Homo sapiens: one gene and its partner. The protein of the gene in region 2 interacts with the protein of the main gene of each other region in a pairwise test. Each region holds a gene or a part of one and is shown on either strand. Other genes may lie near its edges.

What was found.
Region 1: the proteins of HSD11B1 (region 2) and GKAP1 interact in a two-hybrid assay, tested with the Homo sapiens proteins (one large-scale study listed by BioGRID and IntAct).

The regions. Positions count from the first base shown.
Region 1 is NC_000009.12:83,804,184-83,808,011, forward strand, and holds part of GKAP1 (G kinase-anchoring protein 1), read right to left. Parts: intron 2,378-3,828; 5' UTR 2,335-2,377; coding exon 2,119-2,334; intron 1-2,118. UniProt on the Homo sapiens protein: Regulates insulin-dependent IRS1 tyrosine phosphorylation in adipocytes by modulating the availability of IRS1 to IR tyrosine kinase. Its association with IRS1 is required for insulin-induced translocation of SLC2A4 to the cell membrane.
Region 2 is NC_000001.11:209,728,587-209,732,206, reverse strand, and holds part of HSD11B1 (11-beta-hydroxysteroid dehydrogenase 1), read right to left. Parts: intron 1-3,620. UniProt on the Homo sapiens protein: Controls the reversible conversion of biologically active glucocorticoids such as cortisone to cortisol, and 11-dehydrocorticosterone to corticosterone in the presence of NADP(H).

The DNA of each region.
Region 1 (3,828 bases), on a different chromosome or scaffold from region 2:
AGCCGCCCCTACTGGGAAGTGAGGAGCCCCTCTGCCGGGCCAGCCACCCCGTCCGGGAGGGAGGTGGGGGGCTCAGCCCCCCGCCCGGCCAGCCGCCCCATCTGGGAGGGAGGTGGGGGGGTCAGCACCCCGCCCGGCCAGCCGCCCCATCCGGGAGGGAGGTGGGGGGGTCAGCCCCCCGCCCGGCCAGCCGCCCCGTCCGGGAGGGAGGTGGGGGGGGTCAGCCCCCCGCCCGGCCAGCCACCCCGTCCGGGAGGTGAGGGGCGCCTCTGCCCGGCCACCCCTACTGGGAAGTGAGGAGCCCCTCTGCTCGGCCAGCCGCCCCGTCCGGGAGGGAGGTGGGGGGGTCAGCCCCCCGCCCAGCCAGACGCCCCGTCCGGGAGGGAGGTGGGGGGGTCAGCCCCCGGCCCGGCCAGCCGCCCCATCCAGGAGGGAGGTGGGGGGGGTCAGCCCCCCGCCTGGCCAGCCGCCCCGTCCGGGAGGGAGGTGGGGGGGTCCAGCCCCCCGCCCGGCCAGCCGCCCCGTACGGGAGGGAGGTGGGGTCAGCCCCCCGCCGGGCCAGCCACCCCGTCCGGGAGGTGAGGGGCGCCTCTGCCCGGCCGCCCCTACTGGGAAGTGAGGAGCCCCTCTGCCTGGTCAGCCGCCCCGTCCGGGAGGGAGGTGGGGGGTCAGCCCCCCGCCCGGCCAGCCGCCCCGTCCGGGAGGTGAGGGGCGCCTCTGCCCGGCCGCCCCTACTGGGAAGTGAGGAGCCCCTCTGCCCGGCCACCACCCCATCTGGGAGGTGTACCCAACAGCTCATTGAGAACGGGCCGGGATGACAATGGCAGTTTTGTGGAATAGAAGGGGGGGAAAGGTGGGGAAAAGATTGAGAAATCGGATGGTTGCCGTGTCTGTGTAGAAAGAAGTAGACATGGGAGACTTTTCATTTTGTTCTGTACTAAGATAAATTCTTCTGCCTTGGGATCCTGTTGATCGGTGACCTTACCCCCAACCCTGTGCTCTCTGAAACGTGCTGTGTCCACTCAGGGTTAAATGGATTAAGGGCGGTGCAAGATGTGCTTTGTTAAACAGATGCTTGAAGGCAGCATGCTCGTTAAGAATCATCACCACTCCCTAATCTCAAGTACCCAGGGACACAAACACTGCGGAAGGCCGCAGGGTCCTCTGCCTAGGAAAACCAGAAACCTTTGTTCACTTGTTTATCTGCCGACCTTCCCTCCACTATTGTCCTATGACCCTGCCAAATCCCCCTCTGCGAGAAACACCCAAGAATGATCAATAAAAAAAATAAAAAATAAAAAAAAAACCATGTAATTAAATATTGTAAACTGTGGATTCATTTAAAATAACAGAGATCTGTATTTACCAATATGGAAAACTGCTCATGGTTAATTTTTTTTAAAAGCCAGTTATAAAACAGTCTATTATATAACCCCATTTTCATTTAAGTATTAGAAGGATATATACATACATGTATATATTCATATAAATTTATATATGTGTACAGAAAACACATACCAAAATATTAATTGGTTATATCTCTGGTTATATCTATAAATGACCTGTTTCCTTTTAAGACTTTCCTATTTTAAACTTTATGCAATGAACACACAAACTTCCAGTCAGAAAAAACGTACTTTAAAAATGTTCAGGCAGGGTGTGGTGGCTCACGCCTGTAATCCCAACCCTTTGGGAGGCTGAGGCAAGCAGATTGCTTGAGCCCAGGTGTTCAAGACCAGCCTATGCAACATGGCAAAACTCCATCTCTACAAAAAACGCAAAAATTAGCCAGGCATGGCAGTGTGTGCCTGTGGTCCCAGCTACTTGGGAGGCTAAGGTGTGAGGCTACCTTGAGCCTAGGAGGTTGAGGCTACAGTGAACTGTGATCATCCCACTGCACTCCAGCCTAGGTGACAGAGTGAGACCCTGTCTCAAAAAAAAAAAAAGATCATTACATTTGATTTTAAATATACACAAATTCACATCCATTCATTGAAGTAATATTTTCAGAGTACCTGTGGAACAGGTACTATGGATACACAGGGGAACAAGATAGTATCTGTTCTCAGGATGATTACCATCTACTGGGAAAGCAGACAACACAGATAATTGTGTTACCTCATTTGCTTCACTCTGTTGCTGTTCCTTCTTTTTTCTTCTTTTCTCTCTTTTTTTCTCATTTGTAGTTGACTTGCTTCCTAAAGTTTGAGACTTTCCAGTATTTCGACCTTTACCTTTTCCAGGTTCAGAATCAGAGCCACTGCCACTATCCACTTGTAACAGGGCAAAACGAGAAGCGGTGGTGGGAACAGAACTAAGTACTGCTGAGGCCATCGTAAAGATTTTTCTTTTAAAATACTTCTGTCAAGAATAATTTCTGTGGGGAGGCAGAAGAGTAGGCAGATGGGTAAACAAACAGAGTAAAATCTGTTGTAGATTCTAAAACAACCATATGTAGATAAAATAAATTTCTTCTGACACTGGATTTAGTAAATTTGGATTAATACCCACAGCACTATTAGCAATAACATACTTTTATATTTAAGTAAACGATATAACATTTTACAATAGAAAAATATGAGATTTCACAGATATAATGTACTCATTTTTCCATGTATACTTTAAAAATTCACAGTCTTCCTCTCTCAATCATTCTGAAATATATACATAGTTATAGAGAACATCCTAAATCAATATGGTTTACAGTGGAAAAGAATATCATTTTTTCATGATACACAAAAAAAAGACCTTTAGTCCAACTACATGTTAACTCCCAACTTCCAATACAAGAAAAAAAGGAGTAAAGACGGAATACCACTCTTATCATATATAAAATACTACCATAGGTTTGATTCTAGAGACTGTGATTTAGAACTGACAGCAAAAATAAAGAGCTTAAATTCTCTCAACCAAAGGAAACTTTTCAAAATGCCTTCCACATTATGTTTAGTTCACTAGTTTCCATGCAAGCATAGGTCAGTGTAGCTTCATTCCATGTGCTGTCAGCTTTTCCACAACCGTTTAGACTTAGAAGGGATCTTAAAAGTCCCCTAGTAGTTCCTAATCCAAATCCTTTAGTTATACAGCTAAGGTAAGTGGAGTTTAAGTTGGTTATGTGACTTCCCTTAGTTCTTTCTGGAAGTTAGCGGCTGAGTCTCCACCTGGACCTAGATTTGTTGAACCTTATTCTGAAAGTCCAAATTAAGAAGCCCTGTAACAACCAGAAGACTAAGTGCTCTTCTAATTAAAAAAGACAAAGATTGTCTTAACAGAATGGCAACTCAGAAATTTGTATTTTGAAATGTTTCAGGTAAAAACTGAATATTCAATTTGAAAAAATTAAGATGAACACTCCAAGTAGCCAGCACAAAGGTTAACAAAACGTTAACTGACTCCTATGCTTCTCTCCAATTGCATTCCCCCACTGCACCAGCCAGAGATAACAAGTATCCTGATTTTTGTATAACTTACTCCTTTGCTTTTCTTTATAGTTCTATTCTATGCCTTGATTCACAGTGATCATATTTGAATGAACTGCTGTCATTTCCACAATATCCCACTGGTTACATATATATTTCTTACTATATTCACATTATCACACAGGTCCACCCTATTCATTGCAGGAAAGGGCTATGTAAAGGTGAATACTAAGAAGTAAGGATCATTAAGATCCATTCTGAAAGCTAACCACACATTATCGTTTGTATGTTTTCAGGAGGGAAGAAAAATGAGAAGTATGTATTCAATCTTCCACCTTAAGTAACCAGAAAAATATTTGGAAATCTTTCAAGTTTTTGGTATACAATGAAGAAAAATCACAGTAAGAAC
Region 2 (3,620 bases):
TAAGCTTTTAGTAAGGGTGATAAACAAGCTGGGCTACAAAAGAGCCATGTAATTCCACAGCTGCTAACTCTTGCATCTCTGAACCAAGTGCTGGGGATCCAAGAGTTTGACTAGTTATCTCTGCCAACTTGGTGACCTGTTGGCAATGGAAAGGGTATGTTTTACTTTCCTTACAAAGGTATTAAAAAACTGCCTGTCCTGGCCAGGTGTGGTGGCTCACACCTATAATCTCAGCACTTTGGGAGGCCGAGGTGGGCAGATCACTTGAAGTCAGGAGTTCGAGACCAGCCTGACTAACATGATGAAACCCCATCTCTACTAAAAATACAAACATTAGCTGGGCACATGCCTGTAGTCCTAGCTACTCGGGAGGCTGAGGCAGGTGAATCGCTTGAATTTGGGAGGCGGAAGTTGCAGTGAGCTGAGATCGCGCCACCGCACTGCAGCTTGGGTGACAGAGAGAGACTCCATCTCAAAAAAACAAAAAACAGAATCCTGTCTTTGCTTTTCTACCCAAAGCCGCTTTTTAAAAAAAATGTTCACCAGACTGGTTAATTCTCACTCAAGTTGTTTGGAGGATATGTGGACATATGCCTAATAGGATAAACTATTATTAATACCCTTTTTAGGAGGGGAGAGTAGAAGTGACCTGAGACCCTATAGTCTTTACCGAGCATTGTTATAGCAACTACTTTAAAATCCATTGTCTGCTAATTCCAGAATTTGGGTAATTTTAAGATTGATCTTTATTGATTTCCTTTCCTCCTAAGTATGGGTCATATTTACTATTCTTGTATGGGTGTTAATTTTGTATTGTATCCTGGATATCGTGAATGATACATTGCAGGGTACCTGGATTCTGTCACATTCCTCCAAAGAGTGTTGATTTTTTTTTTTAAGTGGCCAGTTAACTTGGGTGAAACTCTGTCTCTTGTAATAAGTATCAGCTGCAATCTCTGTTCAATTATTTGAATCTTAACTTGGCTGCTTGGTTTCTGCATTGCCCATGCATTGTTCAGAGAACAACTAGAGATTTGGACAGAGCTTATGTATAGGATTCAGTGTTTCTCCACTGTGACTCTCCTTTCCAGCATAACCCCTTTGCATTCCAGCTATTACGGTAACCCCAACCTCTTCCTTCTAGCTATTCATGTTGGCAAGATGGCAGGTTTCTATCCCAGATATGGCACTGATTGGGGTTGCCCTTAGGCCTAAAGCTATACAATTGAGAAACTCGCCTACTGTCATTTCCTTCTTCCAAGTGTCAATAACCCTCCATTTTCTATCTGCTCTTGGTTAATCTCCAGTGCTTTCAATGGTTGTCGTCGATATTTTGTCAAAAGCTTATAGTTGTAATCTGGGGAAGGATGGTCTTTCGGGTGCCACTCTTGCAGTTATCGGAATTGGAATTTCTATATGTTTCAAATATAATATGTTGTATGTCAAACCAATGAAGAAAGGATGGGTTATTTAATAAAGATGCTGAGAAAGGTGGTTAACTTATTGGAAAAAATTAACTCTTTGTTTTATGTCATATAGCAAAAAATATTCTAGATGGAAAATGATAGTAAATAGTGTTATCTACCCAATATCCATTCCTCCTTCTTTAATAATAGAGTCTGATTTTGTTCAGGACAGCAACGTAATCATTTTAAAATGCTCATCTCCCTGAGATTTTCTTGCCGTAATAGGCCATGCAACGTAATAGTTCTGGTCAATGAGAAATCTAACAGATGAGGTTTCTAGGAAAGATATTGATTTCCAATAAATTAGATGGATTCAGGTGGCATGCAACTTTTACATTTTGCCCTTCTCCTTTCCTCCTAAGGAACCTCAGATATGATGGCTAGAATTGTAGCAGTCAGTTTGTGAACTTTAGGAAAAGCTAATGTTAATTATAGTGGAACAGAAATGTGGAATGACCTTGGATTCTTGAAGACGTCATGTAAGTCCACCAAAAGCAGCCCTAAACTATTACCTGAGAAGAAGGAATCTCTCTTTGTTAAGTTGCAGTGAGGTTTTTGACTTCTTTCTTTTCAACTGGGATACCCTTTATTTCTTTCTCTTGTCTAATTGCTCTGGCTAGAACTTCCAGTACTACGTTGAATAAAAGTGGTGGAAGTTGGCATCATTGTCTTGGTCCAAATCTTGGTGGAAAGGCTTTCAATTTTGTCCAGTTCAGTAAGATATTAGCTATAGGTTTGTCATGTATGGCCTTTATGATGTTGAGGTATATCCCTTCTATACCCAATTTGTTGAGGGTTTTTATTATGAAGGGATATTGCATTTTACCAAATGCTTTTTCATCATCTACTGAAATGATTATATATTTTTGCCTTTGATTCTGTTGATGTGATGTATCACATTTATTGATTTGCTTATGTTGAACCATCCTTGCATCTTGAAGATGAATCCTACTTGATCATAATGAATGATCCTTTAAAATGTTGTTGAGCTCTGTTTGCTAGTATTTTGTTGAGGATTTTTGCATCTGTGTTCATCAGGGATATTGGCCTGTGGTTTTCTCTTTTTTGTTGTATCTTTAGTTTTGGTTTCAATGTTGGGACACATCCTTAAAAGGAGAAGCCAGTCTCTCCTTCCCAATCCTTTGTCCTTCTTGGTGTCTGAAGGTGGATGTAATGGCTATGGCTCCAGACCTATCTTGGACCATGAGGTAGAAGCCACGTGTTGAGGATGGCAAAACATTTAGATAGTTTAGATAGAAGGAAGGAACCTGGGTGACCATGGAGCTGCCATACTATACTGGCCCTATACTGCCTACCTTCAGACCTGATTTAAATTTTAACTTACTTGTGTGTGTGTGTGTGTGTGTGTGTGTGTGTTTTCCGAGGCAGAGTCTTGCTCTGTTGCCCAGGCTGGAGTGCAATGGCATGATCTCGGCTCACTGCAACTTTTGCCTCCCAAGTTCTAGTGATTCTTCTGCCTCAACCTCCCGAGTAGCTGGGATTACAGGTTTGAGCTACCAAACCTGGCTAATTTTTGTATTTTTAGTAGAAACAGGGTTTCACCATGTTGGCCAGGCTGGTCTTGAACTCCTGATCTCAAGTGATCCACCTGCCTCGGCCTCCCAAAGTATTGGGATTACAGGCATGAGCCACTATGCCTGGCCTAAATGCTAACTTATTGAATCCACTATTATTTTAGGTTTTCTGTATCTGAGAGCTGGACTTACTTCTTATTGATAGTTATCCTCACTTCTATGCAGCCCATGTGCCAAAAGAAAGCTGACATCATTCCTAACTGCAGGTATGAGCTTATGTAATCTATTTTATCCCATTCTTCTTACTCATGATTGATACAGGAATGGCCATGTGGCTCATTTTGGACCAATGAGATTTGAAGAAAATTTTGTTGGAGTGTCTCAAAAAGTTATTGTTTTTCTGGAAGAGTTTCTGAGAGTAGCAATCCTCTTTTTCTTCCAACACATTTTTTGTGCATTGATATGGGGGCTGGAATTGCTGCAGCTATCTCATTGTCAGCCTGAGGATGAAGCCACACATGGAAGAGAGCAGAGCCAAGAGAATCACGGGGACACTGAGCTTCAGCCAAGTCAACTGTGAAGCCTGCCCTACATCTGGACTTCCAGTTATGTCAATAAT